Homo sapiens: one gene and its partners. The protein of the gene in region 3 interacts with the protein of the main gene of each other region in a pairwise test. Each region holds a gene or a part of one and is shown on either strand. Other genes may lie near its edges. The genes, in order: UPF1, DICER1 and ADAR.

Region 1 (10,628 bases), on a different chromosome or scaffold from region 3:
AACTAGCCGGGCATGGTGGTGGGTGCTTGTAATCCCAGCTACTCGGGAGGCCAAGGCAGGAGAATCGCTTGAACCCAGAGGGGGAGGTTGCAGTGAGCCAAGATCACACCACTGTACTCCAGCTTGGGCAACAGAGCGAGACTCGGTCTCCAAAAAAAAAAAAAAAAAAAAAAACACCTGCAAATTGGCCAGGTGCAGTGACTCACGCCTGTAATCCCAGCACTTTGGGAGGCTGAGCAGAAGGACTGCTTGAGGCAGGAGTTTGAGACCAGCCTGGACAACATAGGGAGACCCTGTCTCTAAACAAAAAAAAGAAAATAAATGAAAATCACCCTGCATTTACCAAAGGAAAAAAAAAATCCTTTTTATGAAAATGTTCTATTTGTACTACATGCAGTCCCTGCCCTACCAAAAGGCAAGAAAAAGCTAACTAGCTTGATCACCAGGAAACACAAATGAATAAACTCTGGTTAAAGACAAACACCCCAGGAGTGTTCCGGGGCTAGAGATGCCCTAGGGGCGGGGAGGCCAAGGGAGCCAGGCACCGCCCTTGAGGGGAAGGAAAGATGGGGGCACCTAAAGCTGCAGCCATGGGAACGGCCAGCATCCCGGTGTGAGGACAAGGGGTCGGCCAGGTCCCCTGCTGAGCGACTCACCCTGGCTGCTCCGATCATAGACGGAGCCTGGGATGATGGCCTCCCGGGCATCATACATGGCTGTGGTCATGAAGCGGGCTCCCTGCGAAGGTTTAGATAGGTGAGGAATTTGTCATCTCAACAGAAGGAACAACTTCCCACGGGCCCGGTGGCCTGGGAGGTGGCAGGTATGCAGCTGTGAGGTGTTGACACTGTGCCAGGGGCTCTCCCTGGAGACAGGAGGGAGCTGCTGTCTCATGGCCTCTGGGTCTCGCCTGCCCTCCTCGGCAGACCTGGGCTCTGATGCTGACCCTTGGGCCTCAGCTCAGGAAGCTTCACACCCCCTCACTACCAGATCACCCCGGGCTTGCAAAGCTTCCAACTGCCCGTGTCCAAGGTCCCAGGCTGCTGCATGCAGCACAGCAGCCCTGAGCCCAATTCCCAGAGGCCACCCAGGACTTAGCGGCCCCAAGCCAAAAATGCCACACACGGCTCGGGAGACAAGAAGTGGGCTGGCCCACCCTCCCCTAGGAGAGCCCACCCTCCCCTAGGAGAGCCCTCCCTCAGCTCACGGGCACACGGGCCAAGCTGGCACGTTCCCAGCAGTGTTTTGGGCCCGGGTTTCTCCGTGCTGCCCTGCTGTCCTGTGCAGGCGCTCACCGGGTTGATAGTGTTGACCAGCTTCCGTGGCTTGCTGAACTGCATGAGGCTCTCACGCAGGTTGTTGAGCGGCCCCTCCACCAGCACCTTCTGCTCCTTATAGTAGTTCAGCAGGTGGTTCCAGAGCGGCTGCTTTGATAGTGCCTTCGGGTTGCCCACAATGATGACGCCATACCTGCAACAAGGGCGCAGTGCTGAGGACGCAGGTGGAGAGCTGCCCGTCTCACAGGACGGTCCAAGAGGCAAGGCTGCATTCACTCAGAACCCAAATCCAAGGCAACAGAGGCGTGGACCGGGCAGCAGGCAGGCTGCCAGCCACAGGGACAGGCCCCAAAGCCCAATGCCAAGCCACTGACCCTGCACACGGGTTGATTTTGTGGCCGACTCTAAGCAGCCCCATGGCAGACACCTGGCTGGGTGGATACGTTTGGAGAGAAGACCTGCTGTCAAGAGAGTCGGCCTTCCAGGCACCGGGGCACACGCGGCCCCACAGGGCCCCCAGCAGGCCGGGGCACTGACCCGATGCCCAGCTCCTCTAGCCCACCTCACGAAGCTGTGGGGGGACCCACCCAATACTGCCCACCAAACAAGAGGGCGCCTTAGAAAGAGGGAGTAACCAATGACAAAGCCATGGTGACCTAGAGGAGAACCACCGCGCATATGAGCCGGAAGGAGCACCAGGCTCTCTCCCTGTGCTGGGTGGAGCCACAGGCCAGGTCCCCCCAACTTCCAGCTGGTGAATGGGTCCTTGCTGTCTAGTGTTTTTTTTTTTCCTTTGGAGACAGAGTTTTGCTCTTGTTGCCCAGTGGCTGGAGTGTAATGGCGCAATCTCGGCTCACCACAACCTCCTCCTCCCAGGTACAAGCGATTCTCCTGTTTCAGCCTCCCAAGTAGCTCAGATTACAGGCATGTGCCACCACGCCCGGCTCATTTTTTTGTATTTAGTAGAGAGGAGGTTTCACCATGTTAGGCTGGTCGAGAACACCTGACCTCAGGTGATCCACCTGCCTCGGCCTCCCAAAGTGCTGGGATTACATGTGTGAGACACCATGCCTGGCCTGATGTCTAGTTTTATGTGGGATGACAGAATGGACACCTTGTTCTCGGGGTCCCTTCTGCTATCATCAGTTCACAAAAGTTGTATTTTAGAACCAAAAATAGTGGACAGGACCAAAACTTACAGCCTCTCAGATTAAACAACTTGACAGACACACACAAGATTTATTTTGAATCAGACCAGAAGGGCCTGGAAAAATACGTCCTGCTGGGCTGAGGCACAGGGGCCACAGCAAACCCCCAGGACACGGAAACAAAGATCTCTCCAGTGAGACATCGTTTCTCAACTGCTGCTCAGAGTCCTCTGACCTCTGGCCCTGGCAACCCCCAACCCTAGCCCCAAATTCCCTGGGAAGTGAGGACCGATGAGCGGCTGGGCAGCATGCAGCAGGCAGCCTCCCTACCTTGCTCTGGTCAGGGCCACGTTCAGACGCCTGGGGTCATTTAAAAAGCCAATGCCTTGGTGCTCGTTGGCCCGCACACAGGACAGGATGATGAAGTCCTTCTCGCGTCCCTGAAAGGCGTCCACACTGGCGATCTCCACCTCCTGGAAGGGAGCTTTGTGGTCACTATCAGCCAGCAGGCTGCCTTCCCAGTCCCCCCAAAATGCAGGAAACACACCAAGACCCACCCTCAAATCCCACCCGGGAGCTTGGGGCCTGGCGCCTGCTCACCGCACCTAGGGGCTGTCCTGGCTCTGCTGCCATTTCGTTTTGTTTTCTTTTTTTAGAGACAGGATCTTGCTCTGTCACCCAGGCTAGAGTACAGTGGTACAATCTCAGCTCGCTGCAGCCTTGACCTCCCAGGCTCAGCTGATCCCACCTCAGTCTCCTGAGTAGCTGGGACCATAGACACATGCCACCATACCCAGTTATTATTTTTTTTTGGTGGAGGCAGGGTCTCCCTACGTTGCCCAGGTTGGTCTGGAACTCCTAGCCTCAAGCGACTTCCCTGCCTCAGCCTCCCAAAGTGCTGGGACTCCAGGTGTGGGCCATGACACCTAGCCTGTTCTCTTTTAGCCACGGAGATTTGTTTCTCAGCACTAAGAGCACACGTGCTCATCCCAGAGAACCTGAGCCGTGCTCAAAAACAGAACAGAAACCACTGCCATGTGGCCACTCAGACTCAGCACTTGGGCTCATTTCCTCATGGAGGCAGAGCTGTGCCTCCTCCCCACACACCCGCAGTGGGTGTTTCATCCGGGTGTCAATAAAGGTGTGAACACCACGGTCTCCACAGCACAACATCCAGTGTGTGGCAGGCACAGACCACTGCCGTTCCACCTTGGACTTGTTTCAACCATCCCGAGAAAACACCTTGATGTGCCAATCTCAGCCCATGTTTCTGATCCCTGTGATGTATTTCTCAAAGTCTCTGTCCTGATCATGTGGAATTTCGCAGGGTCTGTGGGGATGTGCTGTCTGTGCCCTCCCCAGAGGGTGGGCCAGCTGGTGCTTCCTGGGCCATTCTGAGCTCCAGCCAGGACGGGCCCCTCTTGGGGGGTAACTTAAAGGTCAAGGGTCAATACCCTTGCATGGCCCAGGAGACCAAGTGTGCCCGAGGGCGCAGCGCACCTGGTAGAGCTTGGTGTGCAGGGAGCCGCTGAACTGCATGTACTGCACCAGGTAGGAGCGCTGGCCCTCGTAGGGCGTGATGATGCCAATCTGGTCCGGCTTGGCGCCTGCCTTCAGCAACTTCGTGGTGATCTTCTCCACGTTCGCAGCCTCGGTCCTAAGAAACCCAGGCTGTCAGTGCTGGGCTCCACCTGTGGGATCCCGAGCCCTGAGGCTGGAGGCCGTGAGGGGTGCAGACACAACACCCTGCGGGAAGGCAGCTGCCATCACTGGCGTTTGCACAGCTGAGCTTCCCCAGCCTTCACCAGGGGAGTCTCGAGGGGCAGAAACGGCTGCCATGTGGGATTAGCAAGTATCTGCCCAATAAAAAACAAGTACAATGGAAAAGGAGGCAGAAACAACACGGTTTAGAGTCTAAACAGGCTAAACAGGAAATGAAGGCAAAAAAAGTTTCAGTCCCATGTTAAAAATAAGTAGAATGGGTCAACAACCTCTCAAGCTGTCCCCAAGACCTGCAGACGCCGGTGGGCCTGTCCCTGCTCACCTGTTCAGGTAGGAGGTGCCCGAGCTGGCAATCTCCTCTTGGCCCTGGGTCACGTAGAAGAACATCGGTTTATCGGGTTGGGGCCACTGGAAGTCAAATCCCTTCTTCACACGATCCGCTGTGAGGGGAGGGAAAGAAGTAACACTTCAAAAGCCCTAGCCCGCCTCAAATGAGTTCAGACACAGGGCAATGTAGTTGCTACGCTACAGTGCTGCAGGTCCTGGGGCAGGAGACTTCGATCTGTGAGGCCCTGGTGAGGTCACCTGAGCCGGTCCCCTGGCCAGAGATGCCCAGGATTGGGCAAGGCTGAGGAGAGGCCACCGAGAGCACCATGGCCAGCACAGAGCTGGCTCAGCCCCTGAACAGGGAACAGGGTCTCAGCCAGGGCTTTCTTGCAGCCTGGATCTCTGCCAACCCCAGGATACAGGATATTCTCCTGCTTCCTTCCAGAAGCTTGCCTTAAAGGCGCCACAGCCCCTACAACTGACTTGTGTGTGACACTGTTGAGCCAACAGTGTCCCCCTGCCCTGCAGCCTTGTCCATTCCTGCTGAGGGCCTGTTGACCGGTGGCTCTGCCTCTGGGCTCCCTCCTGGGCCGGGGCCCAACACTGCAGCTTGGGGGCCGGGGCGTCCTGCCATGTGAGCAGCCACTTTCTTCGGGCTCTTCATGCTCATCTTGGCTTTTCTGGGCCCTGTTGCGTTTCCTTAAAACTGTAAAACCAGTTTCTCAATTCACAGGTGCCCTCCTCACTCTACTGGGAGCTTCCATCAGTGGAGAAAACCGGTGTTTTTGCACAGCACCAGCCTGACATGGACAGAGGAAGCCAGACACGCCAGGACACATCATATGATCCCACGTCGAGCTGAAAATGAGGCCAAGTGGATCACTGCTGTTACAGCGAGCACAGGGGCCGCCGGATGAGCTCAGAAGTCCCTCAGCCCAGGGGCTGCTGTGGATGCGCACCCCTGGACAGTGGCCACCTGCAGGGATGAGGCGGCTTCTCACAGCTGGTCAGGTGGTTCTGGGTTCAGGTGCTGGCTATCCAAATATGCTCACTTAGTAACCACTCATTGAGCCAGACACTTGTAATGTGGCCACATGTTTACACTTCAATAGAGAATTTCCTAAAATGTACTTCCTGGGTGTGAACTACGTGCTGTGCATCAATTAGAGAGCAGTGTGCACCAGCGTCTGCCCTCTGGGCCGATGCCCTGGGGACCATGAGGGGTCTGAGCCTGCGCCGAGCCACGCCTTTCCCAGCCAGTGCTCAGACACCCCAGAGCACAAGCTAGGTCTCTGTGGCCTTGTGTTTTCAGCCTTGCCATGCGCTGGGAACAGCGGTGTCCCTGCGATGTCAATAGTGGCATCAACTCCCAAGACCTACCGCTAGGCAAAGAGTGGTGTGGCCCAACCCGGGGGGTGGGCTCTGAGCCTCACTTTCTCCTGTAACTAGGCCTGACAATACCAACCTCACAGGTTTGGAGTTCATGAGGCGCTGTGTCGGCAGCTTTCAGGACCCTTTACACTCTCAAAAGTTAGGGAGTCCAAACAGCTTTTGTTTATTGGATAACTGTATTCTCTAAACTTGGAAATTTAAAAAATATATTAATTCATTTAAAAATAACCCATTACGTGTTAGTTATTTCTCCAAAAATAAGCTAAGTAAGAAGAGTGGTCCTGTCTCCCATTTCTGCAAATCTCCTTACTATCTGGCTGAATCGGAGGCAGCTGGGCCCTGGGGTCCACCTCTGCTCAGTCCACCCTCCTGGGCTCTGGGGACGCTGTGGGGAAGCCAGGCCTCATGGATGCCTGAGGCTGGAAAGGGAGATGGGTTTGTTTTTACAGCCTTTCTGCATGGCTGGGAGTCTCCAGCCCTGAGGCCACATCAAGCTGGACAAAGGTGGGTTTCTGCAGGCCTGTGACAACTCTTTGCCACTCCATCCCCATGTGACTTCGTGACACTCTGCTGGTCATTCAGGAAGGATCTCCCACCGAGTCAAGTAGGTCTTCCAAAGGCTGACACATTTCACTGGCAATGGTGGAAACATTCCATCTGTCACCCCCACAGACCTCACCAGAAAAGTCTCTAGGTGTTGGGAAGACACCAAGCTCATGGCAAGCGACGTTAAGTTTTCCAAAATTCTGGTTTTCACTTGAATTTTACTACTGTAACAGATGTTGCCACTAGTTCTCCATGAAGCGACAGGTTCGATCATTTTTGGAAAAAGTCTGCCCAACACCTTGGGGTGAATACCCAGGGTGTGTCCACAAGGACTTCCTTCAAGCGCCGGCATACCCAAAGGTGTCACGAGAAATTTTATCTGGTCACAGTGAAACACTCGAGGCTTAGTAAGATGTACTGTTCACTTCCTCATCCAGGGCGTTTCTTACTGTGATCCGGGCACAGTCTGGCTGCTCTGGGCTGACTCTTGCAGAAGCACCAGGGGGTCACCAGCAGTGTGAGCGTCAGCAGAGTGAAAAAGGGCAGGTGAGGCCTCTGTGTTATCCAGGGAAGCCGGACACGGTCTTGCGGGCCCCAGGGGCCCAGGCCCTGAGAACAGCTGTTCTTCATGAAGCACTGAATGCACAGCCCACGTTAAGGCCCGGGCTCAGCTCCCCTAACAGCCTGTCCTGGCTGCTGTGCATGCTGCCACATGAGGCTTGGATGAATTCTCAGGCAATGACTGAGTTTTACAGAGGACACAGGCTCCCCACATGCCCCAGAGACACCACTTGATCCAAGACCATACCATCAAGACCTTGGGCACAAAGTGCCCTGACCTCAAGCAGTGGCTATGTGAAGCCGCTCAGGGGAAGCTGATGGGCCAGTTCCTTCTCCCCAGTCCACATTCCCTTGATGCCGCTTCTCTGTAGAAGCCCCTGCCCTGGGCAGAGCCCCGTTACCTGCAGTGACACCATTCTGGAGGGAGCCCTCGTAGAAGATGTTGGATGGGAAGGCGCTGAGTGCAGGGTGCATCCGGTACTGGACCTGCAGGCGGATGGGCCGGATGCCCAGCACCACCAGGCGCTCGAAGAGCGACTGTGACAGCCCGGCCTTGGCCGCCTTCTTGCACATCACCACTGGGCCCAGCTGGCAGTGGTCGCCTACAAGGATCAGCTGTAGGAACAGGGGCCCCCACAAGTCAAGAAGCTCAGGTGTGAATCAGCCTCAACACACACTAGCAAGGAAGTAGGGGCCCCAGGATGCACAGGACACCACCTGGCCACAGGGGCATTGCTCACCACGCACACTGGACGTGCAGCTGGCAGAACCCACCCTCTATAAACCCCTCAGGGAGCCCCCAGTGTGCGCACACTCTGCTGGGCATCCTACGTCAATACAAGGTGTTTTAAAAGACAAACACCAAGAATCACACACACGAGTTTTCACACAGGAGGGCAGGGGAGGCAGCCCACCTGCTTGGCCCCGAGGACCACGGGAACCATGCACTCCGGCTCGGTGGCCTGGGTGCTTTCGTCGATTAAAATGGAGCGGAACTGCATCTTGGCCAGCCTCGGGTCACCGGCGCCCACACATGTGCAGCAGATGACATCTGCGTTCTGGGGAAGGGTGCAGAGGCATCAGGGCACCTGCACTGTAAACGCCACCAGACCCCGGAGGGCAGGTGGGACAGAACACAGAAGCTCTCCTGTTTCTCACCCTCCCTGACACTATAAAAAACAAGCTGTCCCTCCCAGACAAGATACATGGTCCAGGCTGTGGTGATTACAAACTTTTAAGATCCTTAAACGGTCATGTTTCACAGAAGGCAACCTCTCCACACCAAGAGCTCTGCGCCTCACGACAGCCTCCAAGGGGCAGTGCTGAGCTGCTGGAACCTGCACTCAGGCTGATTCCAGTTCAGGCTGGTTGGTTATGAAAGAGCAGGAGTGTTCTAGATCCACTGCCGGATCCCAGTGGAGGCTGGCAGGGAGTGGAGACTCCCTAGAAGACCGTGTTCCAGGCAGCGAGATGTCCCTAATTTACTGTACAACTGAGCGCAGAGAGGCCAAGTAGAGAGCATCTAAGTTCTCTTTCCAGAAGCAAAGCAACAATTCAAATAGGTGCTTTGGCCCAAACAAAAACCATCAGGCCGCCAGCCCACAGGCCCTTTTGCAGGCAGGAGGGGCACTCACCATCAGCAGCTCTCTCTCTGCGGTGCGCTTCAAGGCCCGGTACCGCTTCTCGTCGGCAGACGACAGCTCCCCAGTCTCGTCTTTCAGCTGCTGCAGCTTCTGCAGCTCAGGCATGCTGGAAGCACATGCAGGTCAGCAGGGTGCCTGAGTTCTGTACATGTCACCCGCAGAAGCTCAGGGACCAACTGGGAGGGATGGACTCGACACACACCTGTCCATGTTCCTGATCTGGTTGTGCAGGGCCAGAAAAGACACCGGGGAGTCGATGGCCTCACGGCTCTTGGCGCAGAGGCGCACGACCTTTAGCCCCGTCTGGTGGATCTTCTCCGTTAGCTGGTCCACGGCGATGTTGCTCGGAGCACACACCAGCACCGGCCTGCAACACCATTGGGGCAGCTCAGTGCTTACCCAGAGGAAGCTCGGTGAACGTAGTAAGCCAAGACTCTGTTTTTTGAGACAGGGTCTTGCTCTGTTGCCCAGGCTGGAGTGCAGTGGTGTGATCTCAGCTAATTGCAGCCTCAACATCCTGGGCTCAAGCAATCCTCCCACCTCAGCCTCCTGAGTAGCTGGGACCACAGGTGCACGCCACTACCCCCAGCTAATTTCTGAATTTTTTTTTTGTAGAGACGTCTCACCCTGTTCAGGCTGGCCTTAAACTCCTGACATTTTTAACAGGCAGTAATGACACGATGCCGAAGGAGCTCAGATCCAGACAGCCCAGGCTTCACAGCTCTACCCACCGCAAGCAATGCCAAGGCTGGAACTTGCACCATCCCGCCACACTATAAAGTGCCGCACACGGAACTCACGCTGCTGCAGCCATGCCCCCCCTGCCCCCAGTTTTCTAAACCAGTAGCAGACCTGGTTACTAAAATGCAATCCTAAGGTTGGAGCTGACACGAATAATGTCACATAGAGAGCGGTAGGCACCATGGCGACACTACCCGCCACGTGCTCTCTTCGGTGTGACAGAGCCCAAGGCTCCCAGCACCAGGCCTTCCATCTGGCCACCCTAAAGCCCTCCCGGGTCTTGCCCGCAAGGGCCGTGTCAGCCCTACCCGTTGCCTTGCCGGGCCAGGTGGTAGACGATGGTGGCCGACGTCACCGTCTTCCCCGTGCCTGGCGGGCCCTGGATCAGGCTCAGTGGTCTTTGCAGCACAGTCTTCACGGCATAAACCTTCAATACAAGCGGCCGTTAGGGGCAGCCTCCGCTTGCGTCCCGGCCCATGGGCGAGGCCCCGCGCGCTGAGGACGGCGCGCACCTGGGAGTGGTTGAGGTCGGGGAGGCCCTGCGCCGTGAAGCGCTTGGGCAGCTGGCACTTGATGATTACGTCCTCCACCTCGTGGCCCAACAGCTTGTGGTAGATGTAGCCAGACACCGAGGTCTCATCCACGGCAAACGTTTTCAATGCGCTCTGCATCCTGTGAGGAGGGTTTGGGGTTGGCGACACGCACAGCTGTGGCCGCCTCTCCGACATCCTGAGTTTGCAGAGCTGGGTGGGGAACCCCACTCCACAGTGACGGGGAGGGCTCATAAAGATGCCACAGGTGGCAACCAGGGAACAGGGGGCAGTGATGGGAGAAGACGTACCTGTCAAAGGAGGTCGACTTCCACACAAAATCCACCTGGAAGTTGTGAGTCACCTCCACAGGTGCACCCACGCTGCTCCGCAGCTCAATGGCGATCTCATCGCCATAATCTGTGTGCTGAGTTAAGTTTGCATCCTTGTCAAAAGCCGGGCTGACCTTTCTGGGCCACCCTTGGTACACGCTCTTTAAACAGCGTTTTTAAAATTTAGTTACTTAAGACACCGCTGGCTCTGCACCAAACGCTAAAAACGTGCAGCCAACACCAGACCAGAGACCAGAAGGACAGCATCCTTGAAGAAAGACTCTACCTCACCATGAGCCGGTGTCCCACCCCCAGCCAGCCTGGAGTTCCTCCTTGCCACTCCCAGCCACCCATCTAGGCCCCTTTCAGAGACGCAGAGGGCGGCAGCGAAGCCAGCAGCGCTCACCAG
Region 2 (10,550 bases), on a different chromosome or scaffold from region 3:
AGCCTGAATGAGACAACTGATATTCGAGGGACACCACCCAAAAGAAATTAATGAATCAAACCACTGGAACAGTGAACACCTGTATTACTAAAGCTTTTCTATTATGCCTGAGGCTTTTATCCAGTTTCTCTAAAATGGCATGTGAAAAAATGTTTCTCTATCGTTTGTAAAATGTAAAACATTTTCTCCATATATTGCTAATGTTATTTAATGTAATAATCCAAAAGATTGATTATTCTTCATACAAGAGAAAAATCTGCTTCAAATTGGTATGCTTCCTTTCATTAATCAACGTGAGTTACATGCAGCACTCACCTTTCCTTGCCCCAATCATTCATCTAATTCTCTGCCTCCACATTCTATACTACCAACCTTTACCATTTTCATAGTACTCTAATACTTTCCTATTATAAGACCATTTCAAATCCTTTCTCAAAATAGACATCATAAACTATTAAATAAATGTACTAATACTAGAGTCTTAGCAGAAATTTGGAAGAAGTGAAAACTAGCCATCAAAAAATCAAAAGGTCCAAGCCCCACAGGCTAAGGAGGTGGAATACCAAGAAAATAATGCTGCCTCAGAAGACTAGTCATTTGGCAAGTCGTAAATTGCAAAGAAACCTGTGAATAAGAGCGAGTATAATACATACACTGGGCTTTCAGGATGAACTAAGCTCTTGAATGTCCAAAAAGCACAGCAAAAGGTAAACAAAATAAGTCACTTGGCTCCAACTTTCTCTTTATACAAATTAAAGACCTCACCAATATCTTCCTCTGGCATTCAATAAAGCACATCACTCCATGTTTGATCAGTTTTTTGAATACCTGCCAGACACTATGATTGGAACCAAGATCGTAAAAAGGAGTCGACCCTGGGCTTCAGAGAGATTACAGATTTTACTGACAGAGGAGTTGTTTGTAGGAAATTATCACTGCTTGGAGGAACCCTGAGAAAACTCATACTGCAATAAATTCTGAGTCTAGTCTAGTGTTTTGAAGATCAAGAAACAATGTGACCACTTTGAGGTATATGTCTAAAAGAAGGGAAAGCATGGACTCCAATGAATTATTTGTATACCTACGTTCACAGCACCATTATTCACAGTAGCCAAAAGATAGAAGCTACCCAAGTGGCCATGGACAGATGAATGGATAAACAAAATGCAGTATATTCATACAATGAAATACCATTCAGCTTTTCCAAGGAAGGGAATTCTGACATCTAAATCATCACAGATGAGCCGTGGAGACACTATGCTGGGTAAAATAAGCCAGACACAAAAGAACAAATACTGTATGACTCTACTTATTTTGAGGTTTCTCCAGTAGTCAGTGACAGGAAGTAGAATGGTGGTTCTCTGGCATTGAAGGTAGGATGGAATCAGGAGTTAGTGTTAATGAGGACAGTTTGAGTTGGGAAAGATGAAAAAGTATGGAGATGGATGCTGGTAATGACTAAAAACAATGTAAATGTACTGTATGCCAGCTAGTTGTACACTTAAAATGGTTCAACGTTGTGTTATGTATATTTTACCATGCCAAAAAAAAAAAAAAACAACTATCTGAAATATTCAAATAACCATTCATTCACCTGAACATTTAAGGTTAGACACAGCTTCATTCATTCCACAAGTCTTAACTGAGGAGTCACTACACGTGATGCAGCCCTGAAATCCATTTGGAACAGTAATGCAATACAAAAAGCATGCCTCCAAAGATTCTGAAACCAAACCACAATTCGATCTCGGCTCTGCCACTTCGAGATTCCTAACTTGGGGTAATAATCACTGACTCTTAGTTTCCTTGCCTATAAAACAAGGACAATATCGAGTTGATCGCAGGGTCACAGTGAGGATTAGAAGAGAATGTACGTAGAACCTGAAACATCTTGGCGCATAACAAGGAGGCACTCAATAACACGTTTCCCTTATCTCCTTTGCCATGAGCAAGTGGAAACGTGACCATGACATGGTAGGGTCGCAAGTGAGAGACTGTCTACGAAATATCTACTTTCTCAAATGAAACAAGCACCTCACATGTCAGATAGTGGTAGAGAATAAAACATCCCAACGCCATAAAAGTCACCCTCTCTAGAAGATAGCACTACAAGTACTGTACAACCCACTATATGACAAAATCACTGTCAAATAAGAATCATGAGCCACATCAAAAGACAATGTCTTCTAAAACCAAGACAATAAAGCTCAATAATAGCAAAACAACCTAGCTACCCAACTCACACATTGAGCCACGGGCAAAATACAGCAGAGCAGTCAGGGCTTACCCTTCAAACATGAGATGGAAGCATAAAAAGTAAAGCAGGCCCTTACTAAAAAGGATTGTAGGAAAATGTCTTTTCTCCCCAAATTAAAATGGACTAACTGTTCTCTTCTTAAAACAGCATTTTGGTGCCGTGAGTAAATCTATAAACCTATGTTACCATGATCAATGTTTATAGTGACCATGTTAAAAGCAATCTTTAGTTTTTTGTTTTTTTATCTATTGAGTTTTATGGAATATGCCCTAAAATGAAGTTTTGAAATAATTGTGTATGTATGTGCATGTACACAGCACATATTACATATAATACACACGTGCCACAGGTAGCTTTAAAGTAGACTTTGCAAAATAAACTGGCTATTCCAGAACCTAATTTCCAAAGATATCAATAATATTGAAAATTACTATTCTCTAGGACCTGGCTTATCCCGAACCCATCTTTTAATAAACTGAGTTTTTTGGTGAGGATGTATATTTTTATTTAGAAAACTTAACGTTTACACCAATACATATTCAATATAGCTAACCTGTTTTAACAGCACATTTTTAACAATATTTTCCGAGTTGCTTAAATCCTAACCTGAGTCCTTTTCCACTGTTTGAAAACAAGCACCACGAAGACACCTGACAATCAGGATTGTAAAGATTCAGAATATTCGAAGACAGAAGCATAGGCGTCCAAGTGATCCTCTTTCATCAGATGAATGTTTTTAAAACCTGAAAGTCCTAAGAACACTTACTTATCGTGTAGACCAGTAACGTGTCCCTTTAACCACAACTCTCTCCACAAAAGCACGGAGTTAACACTACACAAATAGGACCCTCCAACTCATCTCCACGTTTCCGCGGATCTTCAGGTTCCTAAGGACACACTCAGTGGTTTGCTGGCTCTGACCTCCAGGCAGAGCCATCAGGGCAACTCAGCTTTTCTGGACAATCTACAGAAATCTGATGTGCTAACTTAAAACATACACTGATTTCCCCAAAATCAAAAACCCTGAAGAAAGGGTCCTCCGCAGGGTCTAGGCATTTTGGCACAAAAACATCTGAGGGGAGAGGCAAAAGAATGGCCTCGGCCCCTGCCCGCCCCCCAGGGCCCCAATCTGGTCCCCTGACAGTAATCACACAGGACCCTCCCGGGAGGGACCGAGAGCCCAGCTTCGTCCCCTCCGGGCGCGGCACAGCGGCCCCATCAGAGGAGGGCCCCAGGGTGCTCCGGCAGGTCAGGCGCGCGTCTCCACCTCCGCTGCTCCCGCGCCACCTTAGCGCGCGTGACGGGACCTGTCAAGAGCCCCAGGCCTCGCCAGGCCGGGGAGTGGACAGGCGCCGGCATCCCCCACCACGCCACGGCGGCCCGGAAAGTCTCCCAGGGCTGCCTCGCGGGGAGGCGCCGGGGTCCGGGCCCAGGAGCAGAGCCGAGGCGGGCAGACGCCGGGTCCACAGGCCGCGCTGTGCGGGACGACGAGGCAGGCGAGGCCGCGCCCTTCGTCAGCGCCCGCCAGGCCCGGACGCGCGGCTCGGGGCCATGGCCGGCACGCGGGCCTCCGCGCGGAGGCGGGAGCGCGGCCAGGCGACCCGCTCCCCGCCCCGGACACAAAGCTGCTCCGCGGGAGCCCGCCTCACCTGCAGCACGGGGCGCCGCGGGCCTTCGAGAACCATCGGACCCCGCTCCGGCGCGCGCGTCACAGCCCAGGCCTCCCGGAGCCGCCCGGCGCCGCCGCCCCCGCCGCCATTTCCTCGCGCTCGCCGTCGCCTCGTCCCCGCTGTCAGGTTACTCCATTCACCTGGGCCTGCAGCAGCCTGCGCCGCGCCTCCGCCTCGACCCCTCCCGCCGGCGCCTGCGGAGACTGCGCAGCGCCCGGCTGGCCGGCAGCCAGCGCACGGCCCGCGGCAACGGCGCACAGCCGCTTGGAGAATCCCACTGGCTCCCGCACCGCCCCTCCGCGCCCCCACGCTCCGCTCGCCCCGTGGCGGCATGAGAGCGAGCCTGTGATTGGACAGGGCCTGGCGGTGAAAGGTTAATCCCGGCCCCCCAGCCACTCAGGAGCAGGGAGACAGCGGGCGCGCGCGCGGAGGCCGGAGAGGCGTTTGCGGCCCAGCGCCTGGACTGGACCTTGGCGTTGGGCCGCAGTTGCCCGGAGTTTTTGGGGCCCCCGGGAACCCGCGCGCCGAGGCCGGCTAAGTTTGGCAGACTCTCTGAGCTCTCGGAATTCGACTGCCTCCATTGTTGCTCCTTCTGGCACCCACAGACCGTAACGTGGCCGTAATTGTTTCCCGGAGAGCTTAGCTTCCCTCTGAGCACCTCCCTCCCCTTTTTAAAGTACCTTCCCACTCGCCTGCGTTTCCTCGCGTTAGTGGTGCAGGGGCCTCCGCATTTGGGGAAATAACAAACACCCACTTCCGCCCCCCACCCCAACCGGGATCCCCAGATAATGAGAAATAGATGGTGGCCCTCTGTTTGTAAGCTGTTCATTTGCATAGGTCGGAACCGCGCACCACAGCTTGAAGCTAGGAATTAAAATATCGGTGGGAATTAAATAAGTGGCTGGCTTAAAGAACATCTTCTTAATTTATCCCCAAATGTAGACATCTCTTCAGTGGACCCCCTGATAGGCCGGTTTGCTCCAGGTGAGGTGTGCTCACAGCAACTGCAACCGTGTTTCTTTCAGACCATGGGCGTGAGCAGAACCTACTATGCGCCCCTGCTGCCTGGGCTGTGCTGTTCAGTTTGGGGCCACCAGCCCCACATGGCTCCTGAGCACTTAAAGTATGGCTAGTCGGAATCGAGATATATGCATTCTTTACCAAATAATGTTCAAAAAATTGTTACATGTTGAAGTGATAAACTTTTTCCATATATTGGGATAAAAGTTTTATTTGTTTATTTTTTAGTGTGGGTTCTACAGAATTTTAAATGTCACCTGTGGCCTGCATTATATTGCCATTGGGCAGGCTGATCTAGGGCTTGCATGCCTGTGATCCTTAGGTGCACCCTGTGAGGTAGGTGCTTTAACTGTGTGCACCCTGTGAGGTAGGTGCTTTAACTGTGTGCACATTGTGAGGTAGGTGCTGAAACTGCTTCCTGTTTTTTTTTTTTTTTTCTTTTGAGACGGAGTCTCACTCTGTCTCCAGGCTGGAGTGCAGTGGTGCGACCTGGGCTTACTGCAATCTCCGCCTCCCAGGTTCAAGTGATTCTCCTGCCTCAGCCTCCCGAGTAGCTGGGATTACAGGGGCACGCCACCACACCCAGCTAATTTTTGTATTTTTAGAAGAGACGGGGTTTCACCATGTTGGCCATGATGGTCTCGATTTCTGACCTTGTCATCCGTCCGCCTTGGCCTCCCAAAGTGCTGGGATTACGGGCGTGAGCCACCGTACCCAGCCTGCTTCCTGTTTTAACAGACGAAGAAATGGAATAACTTCCAACAAGTAAGTAGCCAGTAAGTGAACAACTGAGATTTGAACCCACGTAGTCTGGCTTTGAGGCTGGTGTGCTCAGTCATTACTGTGCTAAAATTTTGATAATATATTTACTATGAATTGGCTTAAGGTTTCACTTGAAAGTAGCATATTTATGGGCAAAATTAGGAAGTAGGATGCTCCTGGCAGACCCATGTATTTAAAAAAGTAGTTTCTTATATGTCAAGCACGGTGAGCATGTCATACCTTTAAGACCCCAGTCATACATATAAGGTTTTCTTTGTAGCTAGGAATTAAAATATCGGTGGGCGTTAAATAAGTGTCTGGCTTAAAGAACATCGTCTTAACTTATCCCCAAATGTAGATATCTCTTCGGTGGACTCCCTGATAAGCCTTTATGAGAAGGACAGCATCTCAGTATGGGGGTAGGCACTGGACTCTATTGGCAGTGGAAATTTGTGGGCTGGTACAACTTCAGCCCCTCTGGTTGCCCTCTTGCAATCTGTCAAGACTAGCCAGGCTGCTTGTTCCATCAGCAGGTATACCTGATTTTTTTATTTTTTTAATTTTATGTATTTGTTTTTTTCTTTTTTGAGGCAGAGTTTCACTCTTGTCGCCCAGGCTGGAGTGCAATGGCGCAATCTCGTCTCACTGCAACCTCTGCCTCCTAGGTTCAAGCGATTCTTCTGCCTCAGCCTCCCAAGTAGCTGGGTTACAGGCATGTGCCACCACGCCCGGCTAATTTTTGTATTTTCAGTAGAGACGGGGTTTCACCATGTTGGCCAGGCTGGTCTCGAACTCCTGACCTGCCTCGGCTTCCCAAAGTGGTGGGATTACAGGCATGAGCCACTGCGCCTGGCCGGTTTGTCTGATTTTTATCAATTTCAGTTTTTATTTTTAAAATAAATAGTATATCCATATTATTCATTTATCAGAAAGCCTATAAAAGATACACAGTGGAAAAAGATGTCCCTCACACCTGTCCTAGTGTCACAAATAGGTGACCACTGTTTCCTGCTCATTCTTCAAAATGTTTATGTATATATGAGCCAAGATATGCCCTTTGTGTTCCTTGTTTAGAAAAATGCCGGCATGCCATACATATTTACTCCACCTTGTGTTTTTTACTTAATGTATCCGGGGGGCATGTTTATAGTAACACATAGAGAGCTCCTTGCTGTTTTTTCAACCCCCTTAACATATTATTGCAGGTATATCCATACCATAATTTACCAATTCTCTATTGATGGACATTTAGACTTTAAGTCTTTTGGAATTAAAAGTTGATCCATTTGGAATCGATTTAATATATAGGGTGAGGTATAGATCCAAATTAATTTTTTTGTCCAGGTGGCTACACAGTCATTTATTGAGCAGTTCACTTCTGGACTCTGTATCCGTTCTAATGGTCTATCTATTCATGCTCCACTTGCTGGTTTGTTTTAAATCCAGAGACATAAAATCTTGTAAGGGATATTGTTTCACACTTTGTTTGGATCACTAGAAATCTTAAAGCCTATATTTCAGCCCGTGTTAAGCAACGGTATAGTACCATGTGGCATGCATTTTCTATGGGCTAATTTTTATTTTCCCTTAGCCCCTATTATTTCCACAATTTGGTTTATTTTTTGTAGAACAAGCCAGGATTTAAATATACCTTTAAGACTCTCTGTTTGCAAGTAACAGAAACCAAGCTGAACTAGCGCAACCAAAAAGGGAGAATTTACCATAATGATATAGGTGCTTCTCACAAAAGCCCAGAACAGGAATACAGCCACATCTTAGCAAAAACTAGAACCAGTCATTGAAAAGCTTCCAGGAACCCAAAAGGTACTCTCTGTGCCCCTTGTGATTGTTTTCTATGTATCTCTGCTAACTTGTTCTCTCTGCTTTTCCATCTACATGGGAGAATATAGTCACTCCCATATTGGACTGGGCTGTCAGTTCAGTGAGGAGTCTGAGCCCAAAGAAGGAAGGTGGGGCAGCAGCCCTGCAAGGCCAGACAGCTGATTACATACAGGAGAACTACACAAAGAAAAACTATATTGAGGCTAATGGGAGCCAGATTTTTCCCTGTTGGAGAAGGGAGTTACAAGTACAGAAATAAGAAAAGCAAGAAGTTTGTGTGATTGGATTGGAATTGGAGATATTCATGTAAAGTCATGGTTCTTAATACATGTAGATATAAAAATAAATATAAATGTAAAAGTGTGTATCTATATATTTTGTGAGATTCTGAAATATATATTTGGTCTTTGACCTCATTTTCTGGTGTACAACTCCTAAATTTCTTACAAACACCGAAGTGATGTCTTTTGTATGCTAATGAGTTGGCTCGTGGCTGGGAGCCCCTAGGTAGCTTTAGGATGGGGTTGGTCATCAGAAAGACCAAGGCAGGATCAGAGGGTTGGACCTTCAGCCTATCACCAACTTCTTGGAGAAGAGAAGGGTTGAAGGTCAGGTTATCACCAGTGGCCAATAGTTTAATCAGTCATCCCTTATGTAATGAAGCCTGCATAAAAACCCATGAGGACAGGGTTGGAGAGCTTCTAGATAGCTGAACACCAGGAGGTTCCTGGGAGGGTGGTGCACCCAGGGAAGGCATGAAAGGTCTGAGCCCCTTCTCCCACACCTCATCCTATTTATCTTTTCATCTGTATTGTTTGTAATATCTTTTGTAAACATAAGTGTTTGCTTGAGTTCAGTGAGCTGCTCTAGCAAATTAATCTAACCCAAGAGGGGGTCATGGCAACCACAACTTGAAGCCTGTCGGAAGTTCTGGAGGCCCAGACTTGGGACTGGTCAGTGGCCAGGGACAGAGTGGGGCAGTTGTTGGGATGTGTTGGGGAGTGAGCCTCAACCTGTGGGATCTGATGCTATCTCCAGGTTAGAAGGGAATTGGAGGACACCCAGTTGGTGTCTGCTGCAGAATCGATTGCTTGCTTGGTGTGTGGGGAAACGCCCCCCGACATTTGGTCACTGAAGTCTTCTTTGTTAATTGTTGAGGGTGAGGGAATAGGGTGTGTAATTTTTCCACAGTCAGTTATATACACACACATGTCTATAAATGTATTTACATATATTTCCTAGGCCTAACCAGTGAGAAGGTCTTGGTGCAGCAACACCACATTAGCCAAGAGAACACCTAACACCTAGCTCTAAACACCTTTCTCCATGAAAAGGAACCAGGGCGCTTTAGAGAAATGGCTGATTTTAGGGTTGGGCCAGAGAAAGTATAGTATGAGACTGGAACATCTTGTGCTAGAAAGTGTGGAAATGCTCAAGAAATGGTGGAGACAGTTCAAAAGGACAAAGCAATCAGCTTGAAAGGGCTCCTGTTGGCCAAATCTGGGACAATTTGAACATCAAAATAAATCACAGTAGCAGGAGATTATATCCCATGGGTTAAAATGGAATCTATGAGTCCACACTTTCAAAAAAAAAAAATAAATGGCAATAAAGAGCTCTTTAGAATAGAATTCAATAATATATTTAGAAAAAAGAATGGAATTGTAACCCAGTCATAGGTTCAGCAGCCCACTGCTTACAGAGCACAATTAACAAGAGTGAGGTCTGCCGTAAAGAAAGTGACTTTTTATTCCAAAGCTTAACGTAGGGGGAAAAGTGCAGGTTCCTGCCTTAAGGTACTGATTTGCTTTTGGGGCAGAAAGCAGGGGCTTTTAAAGTGGGACTTGGCATGAATGGCATGCAGGGGAGGGAGCAAGCAGGTGAGGATCTACATGACTCTCCTTAGCGCTTTTATCTACCGGGTGTTTGAGCTGGCACCATGGCAGGCAGGACTAGATTGTAAAGTGGCCATTGTCTGAGATGCTCTCCAAGTGGGACAGAGTTTCCTAGCAGGCATAGTTTAGATTGTAAATTGACTGTTGTCTCTCCAGGCAGTCTCCTGGTGGGAGAGATTTCTGGCTTAGAACCTTCTAAAAGCACATGGTTAAATAAGCTTGCCCTGTAAGGAGTGTCTGGTGAAGGGAAGGTAAAGATTATAATTGCATTTCTAAGGAACTAAGTGGGAAGTGGGAGAAAGGAGAAAAGGAGAAAAGAAAAAAAAAATGTTTTAAAACACAGTTATCTTTCTCTTAGAAAAATGGGGGTACTCAGTAAACAGAATTAGAAAATCACCATTTGGCAATCATCAGACAAGAAATATCAATGTTTGCTAAATCTAGTGGGGAAAAGTTGAATAAGGAATGAGTTACTTACATAGGTTCAAAGCATCTCCCCATGAAATTCTTATTTAAAAAAACAGGAACTTTACAAAAGAGGAATCTAGTAGATATCGTCTTACTCATGACAAAAAAAAAAATCAGCATTAATCAGGCTGCACTTTGACCCATTTATCAGTTGCTGAAAGTCACACAGCACTCTAGATACTGACCAGTTGCATCCGCAGTTGTTCCTATCAATAGAATTTCCAACTTTAGGATCATGACTATTTAACAGTTGATTTTCATCTCTATTGTTCCTATAGATAGAATCTCTGACATTAAAACCATAAGGTTTTTGCTTAAGGATCAGTTAAGATGTTTACAGACCCTGAATTCCATAAGCATTTTGAAGCGCAGAATCAGCATGAGAAGACAGCTTCCTCATCTCCTGCCCTATGACTTCAACCTGCACTGTTCAACCAATGAATGATCTCTGCCCTTCGGCCCACTCCAAAACCCTAAAAAACCCTACCCCAAACTCCTTAAGGAGATGGATTTGAGGTTCCCTCCTGTCTCCCTGTTCTGTGACACTACGACTAAACCTCTCTGCTGCAGCCTGGTGTCTCCACATGTTGACTTGCTGAATGCATTGGGCACTGGACCAATTATGGTTACAACCTT
Region 3 (10,628 bases):
CCACCCCACCCAGACGCAAATTTACCCACAAAGGGAGGTTCTTTGAAATGGCTCCTTTCCAAAGGCTGAGGGACAGCCCTGTCCCCCACAGGTTCATGTCAGATGCCACTGGTGCTGTTATCAGAAACCCCAGGGCCACAGGTCCCTTTGTTCCCATTTTCACCTCCCCCAAGAAACCAGGACTTAAAACTTTCTAAGAATTCAGATTCTTGTTTTTTTTTTATTTATGAGGAATGTATATTGTTAAGTCACTGTTATCAAGGGACACATAAAAGCAGAATCATAAAACTGGACTGCAGCCATCATCACAGTACCCGAGTCTATGCTTGGGGGTCTTCCTCACTCTGCTCTTGGAGTCACAACCAAGACTCCAAAAAACCAACGAAGTCCCTTCAATGTGAGTAAAGGAAACAGCTTCAAGCACTGACAATTTTTACAAGTGATTATTCAAGGAATGCACAGTAGCCACAGTTCAGACAAATCAACTACAAAAATCATTAAAAAGAAGAGTAGGGAGGGTCACTGCTTATTAAAAACAAAAGACTGGACAAAGAAAGTGAAGATAACAGTGGGCAGAAGCTCTGCCTCCTCTGTCCTGTGTGACTCAGAGGGGCATGGGGGCGCAGGGATGTGCGATCTGACACGGCTCGTTTCCAGCAGATGCGTGGAATTCAGGGATGCCTCGCTCTCTTCCTACAACAGAAACTGAATACTACAGGCTTGCTAGATAAGATCTTGGGGGTGAGTGGGGGTTCTGATCTTGTGAGAGCCTGTGTTCCCAGTTAAAGAAGAGGCAGCTGGCCAGAGCTCTGCTGGAGAACCTAATGCCCAAGATGGACCAGAGAGGCCAAACAACCTGAGGACTCAGCAGGTGACAACCCTGTAGCCTGAAGAGGAGAGGGGCTGCGCTGCCTTCTGATGCTGAGAACCACAGACCTCTCTGCCCTGGATGTGGGTGCCAAGACTGATTTACTGTGCCCCCAGCAGACCCAGAGCCAGGGAGCAGGCCTCTTCCACTCCAGGAGACAGGCGCCACTTCCCTACCAGTTCCTTGGGATGCTTTGGTGTTCTGCAAAGGCATCCTTAGTCTATTTTTAGAACTTGCATTTTCTTACTTTGGTCAATTTTTGGTCAAAAGTACAGAGAGCATAGAATAAAAGCAAAGATGTGAATGTCTCTACCAGACAGAGGATGACCTAGTCAGCAGTTTGGAGGGAAATCATCTGAGGGTGCTGGCTCAGCACGTTCCCAGATGAAGGTCTGTCATCTAAAGGAGAGAGGCAGGCTCAGCTCCTGAAGGTCGCAGAGCCTCAGTAGTCCTCCTGAGTGTGTCTAGCTGACTGTTATCGAGGGACACGTAAAAGCAGCATCACAAAACTGGACTGCAGCCATCACCACGGCACCAAGTCTATGCTTGGGCTCTTCCCTGCTCTGCTCTTGGAGTCATGACCAACACTCTAAAAGCCAACAAAGTCCCTTCAACATGAGTAAAGGAAACAGTTTCAAGCACTGACAGTTTTTACGAGTGACTATTCAAAGAATGCACAGGAGCCAGAGAGCCAGACTCCACAGAGAGGCCAAAGGCTCTGAACACACGAGTCAATGTTCATGGAGGTATAGACAAAGGATTCTACCTCACAGAGTTTGAAGACAACCTGCCCTTTCACCCACAACTACTGCTTTCTATGTCAACCCTATAAAGATCAGGTCTGCGCCCTGCCCACGAGCCTACTTCTGAAGCCATCTGGAAAAATGAAAGCACTTGGATAAATGGAAAAGTATGCCTGAATTTTAAATCTGCTCAATTACAGGTTATCTGTAGCAGTTAAGAATCAACATCTATGGCATTCTTTAAAACACTCCTAATTTACATGTGACTTAGTCAACTTCCCTTGGTGTCACTGTCATGAGAGATATTACACCGGGTGGAACAGTGACGTTAAGCCAACAGGATTTTTTGCCCTTATTCTTGCTAAGTCATGATTATCTGAGCAGAGATGATTTTATACCCTCTAGGATTTGTCCCGTTGGCTAGGGTGTACGCCCAGCATTGGCGGGGAAAATATTCCTAGGAATGCTTTAGGAGAAGAGGCAGCTGGAAGCTTGGCAATATTCCAAGGCATGCCCGTGCTCCCTGGGAAGTGGTCTGTGTCATCCTGCCGGGTGAAACCTCTGCTATTGCTTGAGCAGCTCCCTTAACCCAGTCTGGCTGGTTCTAGACTTCCCAGCTGCCGGAGAAAGTGATACACTTCCAGGGAAGCAGCTTTCCTTGCCTTGCCCGCCCTGCAGCTGGCTAAAGTGCAGGATGGGAGGATGGCTGGGCATTATCTGCAGGCTCCAATCACACTTCCGTGGCACTGGGAACTGCAGTTTTCAACTCCTACCCTTACAAATGTTTCACCAAATCCTTTATGTTCACCTCTTTGCCCTCTGAGGGGGAAAAGGAGACATTCAGATCACAAGGAAAGAATCTCAGAAGGGAAAGAGGGGAAGTAGAGGGGTCTGCGTAATCCACAAATGAAATTATCAGTCCCTGACATGATCCAGAGTTGACTGAAACCTAATCAAGACCGCAAGAGGTCAGTGTAGCAAACACAAAGGGAAAGGAAATGGAAACAAATCAAAACAAAACTTTTAAGAGGAAATGGACCGCAGGTGCTCAGTGACTATGTATGCTTTGGGTAGAAAGAAAAGATAACTTCTTAGGTTTCTGCCTCTTCACTTGGGGGAAAAAAGGGGGGCCTGGCCAGACCTTGCCTAGCAATCCCAAAGAAAGCAGGATAAATGGGAACCCAAAGTTTTCAGTATCACCAATTATGGCTTAAAAAGAAAAAAAAAGGAGAAAAAAAAATCCCCTGACCATGTGATGAGGAATGCTACGACCTACCTCTCTCACACCCTAGTATGACACACCCTAATCCATCTGTCACTGGAGCATACTATACTGGGCAGAGATAAAAGTTCTTTTCCTCCTGGGGTTTGCTAATCCAGTTCCCATAGCCCATATCCTTCAGGCCTTTTTTGAAGTAGTTCTTGGCCGTCTCGTAGTCACGGGCAGCTTTCTTGGCCTCACCATAGGAGAGTCTCAGTAGATCCCTGCGGTAACGGAAGGAGCAGAGCTTCTTAAATAGAAGAAAAATGTTCTTTTTGGAGACCCGGGACAATTCATTCCGTGGCCTAGAGAAACAAAAGCACTCATTATTCACCTGGGACCTGTAAGATAAGGAGCTCACAGTGGAGACACCGTGGGAGGGGAGGCGGCTCTCAAGCCCTGAGACTGCAGAGGTATGATGCACCCTTGCAAGTCAGGGCAGAGGCTTGGTCCTCACTGCGCTCTCCTGTCTCCTTACCCATCCACAGTGCCTCTGGTACCGTCCAGGATCTCCAGGTCATAGCCATCAGCCAGACACCAGTTGACGCTTGTCTCCTTAGTCTTCCCGGATTGCCTTTTGGAATCATATATGCTGACTCTGCCAACCTAGGAATCCCAGAAGCAACGGGAGAAAGATGGAAACCTTTCAGGAATAAGATTCTGAAGCAGGGACTCAAGACTCATAGGAGAGAGGAAGTGTGGGGTCATGATCTTTCCCCTGTATTTAGGGTTCTGTTTGGCTAAGACTGAGCACCCTCTAGACATACTAACTCCACCTCGATTCAGATTAATTCCAGACTAAGAGAAGAAAAGCCCTTGGCATCCAAAAGGAAGAAAGTTTAAGTTCTTGGGAGACCAACCAATGTTGGTGGTGGGCCACTGTGGGCAATGTTCCCTTGTGGGCTACCACTGTGGGCAATGTTCCCCTTGCCCACAGTGTACATTTTTCCTCTGTTTACATGACTGCTTGAAAAGGAGGAAAATGTCAGGGAAAATAGAAGGGGGTTATAGCACCTTGGGGTGGTTGACAATAAAGGGATGTCGTAGTCCATCCTCAAATGCACTCCCATCTCTTGTCACACGACAGCAAATAGCACGGGTCAGATGCCCTTGGCTGAAAAGGTAACCTGAGTACAAAAAAGAGAAACATATATACCTGTGTTTGCACCAAATGCTGTTAAGAGGCAGAAGCATGTGGGGATTTTGGAGGTACAAGATATAGTTGTCAAGAAAGAGAAACAGCTGCCTTGTTAGGAAGCACCTTCTGACTGGGGCTACCAGGATCTTCCTACCACAGCAGACTGGACACTCAATCAATTACTGAGGAGTGAATCATGCTCACTTTGATAAGGGAGACAAAACACCTGGCAATAAAGCATGCAGTTTGGGATCTGGGCACAAGAAGGACAGACCAGTTCCAGATCCCAAGGCAGGCCCCTTACCCAATGTGACAGATTTGAGATAAATGGGCTGCAGGAAGTGGGTCAACAGTGCCCCTTGCAGGCCCAGCACGTTCCAGCGTAGGATTTTGTCACTACAGGACATGGTACGGAGTCTCTCCCCGAGCCGAATGCCATCCCACGTAGGCACAATGTCACTGGATTCCACAGGGATTGTGCCTTCTCCTGTGTGAGAGACTTGGGTCAGACCCACAGGCGCCAATGGACCAAACCACTCCCTGGCGTGGTTTCTATCCTCCTTAAGCTTGGGCCACAGGCTACATTCATTCATTCTTCACATATTTCACAGCCCCTGCTATGCGCCAGGCACTATGCTTGGTGCTGGGAAAGAACGGTGAGCAAAACCAAGTAAGATCTTTGTGCTCTTAAAACATCTATGGTGGTGAGGAGATTGAAAGGGAAGAGAATAGACACTAAACCAGTAGCCAGTACATACGGAAGAATTCCAGATGCTGACAGTGCTCTGAAGGCTCTGAGGCAGCTATGACGGAGGACCACAGGGGACACCTCCTGGGACAGCAGCAGCAGGGGAGCCCAGACATGGAGGAGGACAGCTGGAGTAAGTGTTTCAGGCACACAGGACAAAAGCAAAGGCCCCAAGGCAGCCAGCGGATTGGCTGTTCAGGCGCCTGACAGAGAGCCAGTGTGGACAGAGCATATGCGAGGGATGGGGAAAGTGGCATGAGAGGAGGCCGGGTGATCACAGCAGGTTTTGCTTGTATATGCAGTGCAGTGGGAAACCACTATCGGGTTTAAAAAAAAACAAAAAAAAATGCTTTACTGAGATATAGTTCATATGCCATACAGTTCACCCATTTAAAGCATACAATTCAGTCATTTTTAGTATATTCACAGAGTTCTGCAACTGTCACCACAGTCAATTTTAGAACATTTCATCGCTCCAAAAAGAAACCTTCTACCCATTGGCGCAGTCACTCCTCATCTCTCCAACTCTCCCACTCCTGGCCCTGGCAACCACTCATCTACTTTCTGTCTCTATGGATTTGTCTATTCTGGACATTTCATATAAATGGAATCATACAATATGTGATCTTTTGTGACTGGCTTTTTTCATTTGGCATCAAGTTTTCAAGTGCATCCATATTGTAAGCATGTATCAGCACTTCACTTCTTTTTATGGCCAAAATAATATTCAATTTATGGATATATTTGATGTTTTATTTATGAATCCATCAGCTGATGGACGTCTGGGTTGTTTCCACTTTTTTGGCTCTTGTGAGTAATGCTGCCATGAACATTCACATATTAGTTTCCGTGTGGACACAGATCTCCATCTCTCTGCAGCATATACCTAGGAGTGGAGCACCGGCTCCATGGTAACTGTGTCTATACTTTAGGGTATTTAGCAAGGTTTCAGGACCACCATGATGACTGCTGACGTGGCCTGAACGCAATGGAGTGGATGCGAAGAGACAGTAAGGAGACAGGAGAGGATAGGAGAGAAGGAGCCAGTGGACAAGGCAGAGTCAACTGCCAGCTAGACAGGAGGGGACCCCAGCATTTGGCATCCTCATCTGTCAACTCCTCAGGGCTTGGTTGTGCCGCACTCTTCATTTCCTCCCCGCTTTCTTGAGGTAATCCTATGCATTCTCATGGCCATGAAGACCCTATAGGGGGATGACTCCCATATTTCTATTTCCAGCCAAGCTCCCTCCTCTGAGCTCCACATGGGAACCCCCACCTCCTATTTGACTTGGGGATCTCCCAGATCTCCCAAACTAACACATTCAAAATAGAACCCTGATCTTACCACACAGCTCCCTGACCCAGGTCTTCCCTTTCCTGTAAACAGCACCTCTGTGCCCAGTGACTAATGGTAAAATCCTAGCAGCCTTGTAGAGACTTGGGGTCCCTGGACCTTGCAGAGCCTTTTGAGGAAAGGAGGCGGGGGCATGTATCACTCACCGTTCTCCACCTTGGTGCGGAGCTTTCCTTGTTTGGGATTCTCGAAGACAGGGTAGTGGCGGGATTCTGTGCTTTCCATAGCACGGTCGCTGCAGGACTTGTCAAAGAGGGCGCCATCTCCACACGGAGCAGTGCTGAAAAACAGGGGTGGCTGTTAAAACTCACCTGTGGGAAATCTGCAATTTCGTGGGGCTCCAAAACAGTCAGATGTGACAGAAGCAAGGGATGTTTTCTAAGGCCTACCATGGGAGACTGGAGGTGGACAGCAGTACATGTGAGTCATCTACACCTGAATATGGACCTCAAACCCACAGTGGAGTGTGGCTTATTGTATCAGGTTCGATTTACAGGCCAGGAGAGCATTTGGATACCCAATTCTAACAGCCTGGCAGGGCCCACCCTGGCAGCAACAGGAACTGTACAGACCTGATATACAGATGGAATGACACAGTCTTTTTTATTTGGAGCTTTTCTCCTCCCTTAGCAGGTTCAAATATACTATCCTTCGCAGTCTGGGAGTTGTATTTCATTAACTCACTGTAGAGAAACCTACAAAAAGAAAGTCTGGTTAGGAAGGCAGGTTCAATTCTGGGAAAAGCAGTTGTTTCTATAATCTGACCTCCAAATGAGAAAGTAAGGAAAAGTCTCAATGTTGCAGACGTTTCACAGTTTATCAGGTGGAAATTCTCCAGGGGAGACCTCAGCATTTCATAAAGCATAGTTAGCCTTTTGGGTCTCCTTCATTTCTGCTGAGGGCTCCTCGCTATGGCGGCTACAGGGATTCTAGAGCAGAGCAAACTGATTCAAGGACTACAGGAAGCTGTTGCTCCTTTCTAAGTCTCTCCCTTCATAAATTAAAGAAAAGGTGAGCTAGAGGAGAAAGCTGGCAGGGGCATCAAGGTTGTGTAGGTCCTCAAACGGAAATGGAAAGCTGCCTCATCCTCAAGGCCCTGAGGACTAAAAGGTCATTTTGTGTTTTTAGAAAAGAACATGAAGCAGCAGAGTTAGCAGAAAAAAGGACAGCATTTAAAAACAGGCCGAGCAGTGGGAGGCAGCTCAGCTCACAGAGGGGATGGATTCCATCAGACAGGTTCAAATGGACGGGTGAAAAGCAAAGGCTGCCACTGCCACATCATGACCCGTCTGTCTGAGGGGGATTCAGAGGCCGTGTCAGAGCCATGTGGGGCAGGGAACTGGAGCTCTCCACAGCCGGGCAGCCGGGCCACAGCTCTGACCTCGCTCACCTGATGAAGCCTCTCCGGGAGATTATTTCTGCATGGCAGTCATTGACAGTTTCTCCTTTTAGGCTGAGAGAATCTCCTTTCACACAGCGATTCCCTAGGAAGGTGTTTAAAACAGAAATAGAATAATGGAAGGAAACCGATGGAAAACAGGATGAAGGCTATTTGTTCTGAAAGCTTCAAGGCAGAAACAGCCTCAGTTTCTCAGATCCTAGACTCCCATATTCTCTCCTCTAGGAACTAAGAACTCATTCCTCACTCTGAATTGACTGTAGCTAAAATGAAGTCTCTTCTCCCTGCCTTGGACTTACATGCATGGACTCCAGGGGAGGATGAGAGGCACCCGCTTTCAGGCGCCATGGGAGGCGGCATGTCTCAGAGCCTCACTCACCTGTTCCCAAGCTGACGACGACACCCATGTCCTCAGAGTCTTTTTTCATAATGATGGCGGCCAGAATCTTGCGGCCGAGCAAGGAGGGCTGGAAGCTGTTAGTCAGAGTGTTGAAGCACCGGTGGCTCAGCATGGCTATCTGGTCATGGAAGGTGCTGCCAGTGAGAGGGAGCTGTGGGGAAAAGAGGCTGTGTCAGCACCACAAAGCTGAGGCTGTGTCCACCATATTCACCGTGGGCAGGGAGATCAAGCTCTACTTGTCGTGTGAGTCATCTTTTCCTTCTTACATCTAGTGTCCCAGTTACTGCTCTCTCGAGGCTAAGAGTAAAGCCTAGGAATAACTCGCATGACAGCAAGAGCCACCTCCACTTAGGAGTTAGGAGGACCCCCCCGCCCCAAAAAAGGCACCAAAAGTAGACGTCTTAACTGTCTTTGGCTGTGCTTCTGGGGACCTTGAGAGGAGGAGCATAGTTCTTCTGAGACTGGCCCCTGTCACTGGGGTTACCTCTGTGAAACCCATGCGTTCTGCCTTCTCGTTCTCCCCAATCAAGACACGGAGAGCCGCATCTGCTGCTTCCTGCTTGCCTTGCTTCTTGCTGTGTGCGCAGACGGCTGGGAACCAGCGACCCCCAACTTTTGCTTGGTAAACGAACCTTTGGGATGAGAAACAGAGAATGAAGACAAGTGCCAGACCCTGACATTGTTCCAAGGAAGGGTTAGTTTTGCTGAAGATGTGGCCAGTCTTGCAAACATATGGACCCGTCAAACAGAAGCTGTTTCTAAGGCAGCATTTCCTAGATTTTGGTCATTCATGAATCACCACATGATTTGTGCCACATCCAGGTATTACTTGGACTATTAATTAATATTTTTCTCTAAATTGACTTCTTAGAGCCAGCCATTGTGGCTCACACCTGTAATCCCAGCAACTTGAGGAGCTAAGGTGGGAGATCACTTGAGGCCAGGAGTTCAAGACCAGCCTGGGCAACATAGTAATCCCCCAGGCAACATAGCGAGACCCCTGTCTCTTAAAAAAAAAAAAAAAAATTTAGCTGGGCACGGTGGTCTGTGCCTATAGTCTCAGCTACTTGGGAGGCTGGGGTGAGAGGATCACTTGAGCCCTGGAGGTCAAGGCTGCAGTGAGCTATGACCATATCACTGCACTCCAGCCTGCGCGAGACAGCAAGATCCCCATCTCTAAAATAAACAAACAGACTCTAAAAATGTAAATATCCGTAATACTAGGTATGAAAAAAGAGATAAAAATGTAAACACACTGAAATAGGAAACTTTGTTTCACTACTGTAAATGGAAAACCAGTATCACTTGCCACATATTGAAGGTGGCTGTAAAACAGAATATGATAAAATCATGTTATAAAATTCTGACTAGATACTGTTACCTGCAAAGGCTCTGAGCCTGTCCTTACTATAAAGGAAGATTATGAAGTATGAGGAAGGCTTAACGAAATGCTAGCACCAACTTGGACTCTCTTCTTAAGCAGAAATCAGAAGGGACTACCTTTCTCCCCACAAGTCACTGTTACTTCATACACTGTCTGATTTTTAAAGCGCCCAACTCCATTCCCTCATTTACTTCCTATTAGCTCAAGGGGACTTGACCTGGAGAGGTCATTAGGTCAAGGTCGGCCTTAGGCCAGGGACCCAGGTTTTGCTGGGAGTTGTTTTTTTGACTCCTGGCAGGCTTAAGCTAACTCTGGGGTAAGGAATGGATCTTGGGCGCATGAGCTGCGCTGACAATAAAGTGCCCAAGTGGAGCAGGGAGGTGGCTTCTACCGCTCCGGCTGGTAATTTCCAAACACAGAGGGAAGAGCATGGTGGAGCAAAACAGCTTGGAAATGTACCAGACAAGGCATCAAGAATCCTAGCTTTCAACCAGATCCTAATCTACTGGCTGAGAACCCAGCTTTGGATACTCTAACTGCATATAACAGAGGCTTCAGTTTCAAGACTTAGCAGCTCAGGCAGTAAAAGGAATCAACGTTTATGTTCAACCACATGGAGTTTCTCACTGTTCCTTGATGATCCGAAGCAACTAAATGCCTTCACTCTTTTCTTTGTCCATGCTGGCAGGCCCGTGCAGGCCAGTGGGCTTAAGTTCAGAATGAGAGGGACAGTGGCATGAAAAGAAGATGGTGAAGGCGGTCAGGAGGGACAGATTGTGTAGTATCTTTACCTCAGGGATCCAGGAGAATTTCATGACTGCCCCATGTGTTTGAAAAGAATATGAACTCTTACGTGCAAAGTTTTATACTGATATATTTACATATATGATAAAGTTTGTTAATTATGCAACTAGAATCCTTTAGAGCTGTGCTATCCAATATGGTAGCCACTAGCCAAATGGGGCTATTGCCATAAGTGCCTCCTCTCAGCCTCTTTGCCAGCTCTGCGCTTCTCCCACCACAGGATTTAACAGTGTCCTTCGCCTAGAACCCTCAGTCTTTCTCTCTTCATCATCCTTAAAGTCTCAGCTCAGGCAGTACTTCTTGGGGAAGCCCTTCCCCCTCTCCTTCCTAAGTCAAACTGTGCTATAATTGATTCTCGCTGCAACTCCAGCCCTTTGGAATACTTATCAAATATGAGATCTTACATTTCTTTAGGTGACTATTGGTTAATGTTTGGTTCCTGTTCTAAAAAAAATAGAAGATACTCCATAAATAAGTGTTGAGTAAATAAAGTATAAAGATCAGTTAGGAGGCTATTGTGACAGTCTAG

The links.
Region 1: the proteins of ADAR (region 3) and UPF1 interact in binary tests that used the Homo sapiens proteins (3 or more experiments, as listed by UniProt).
Region 2: the proteins of ADAR (region 3) and DICER1 interact in binary tests that used the Homo sapiens proteins (3 or more experiments, as listed by UniProt).

The regions. Positions count from the first base shown.
Region 1 is NC_000019.10:18,854,280-18,864,907, reverse strand, and holds part of UPF1 (regulator of nonsense transcripts 1), read right to left. Parts: intron 10,332-10,628; coding exon of another isoform or gene 10,308-10,331; coding exon 10,199-10,307; intron 10,030-10,198; coding exon 9,870-10,029; intron 9,785-9,869; coding exon 9,666-9,784; intron 8,984-9,665; coding exon 8,819-8,983; intron 8,723-8,818; coding exon 8,608-8,722; intron 8,032-8,607; coding exon 7,888-8,031; intron 7,589-7,887; coding exon 7,375-7,588; intron 4,588-7,374; coding exon 4,470-4,587; intron 4,083-4,469; coding exon 3,926-4,082; intron 2,899-3,925; coding exon 2,756-2,898; intron 1,471-2,755; coding exon 1,296-1,470; intron 739-1,295; coding exon 657-738; intron 1-656. UniProt on the Homo sapiens protein: RNA-dependent helicase required for nonsense-mediated decay (NMD) of aberrant mRNAs containing premature stop codons and modulates the expression level of normal mRNAs.
Region 2 is NC_000014.9:95,153,324-95,163,873, forward strand, and holds the start of DICER1 (endoribonuclease Dicer), read right to left. Parts: upstream 4,207-10,550; 5' UTR 3,907-4,206; intron 1-3,906. UniProt on the Homo sapiens protein: Double-stranded RNA (dsRNA) endoribonuclease playing a central role in short dsRNA-mediated post-transcriptional gene silencing.
Region 3 is NC_000001.11:154,581,867-154,592,494, forward strand, and holds the end of ADAR (double-stranded RNA-specific adenosine deaminase), read right to left. Parts: intron 8,544-10,628; coding exon 8,318-8,543; intron 8,063-8,317; coding exon 7,891-8,062; intron 7,597-7,890; coding exon 7,503-7,596; intron 6,808-7,502; coding exon 6,685-6,807; intron 6,393-6,684; coding exon 6,259-6,392; intron 4,498-6,258; coding exon 4,315-4,497; intron 4,000-4,314; coding exon 3,887-3,999; intron 3,479-3,886; coding exon 3,351-3,478; intron 3,178-3,350; coding exon 2,940-3,177; 3' UTR 191-2,939; downstream 1-190. UniProt on the Homo sapiens protein: Catalyzes the hydrolytic deamination of adenosine to inosine in double-stranded RNA (dsRNA) referred to as A-to-I RNA editing.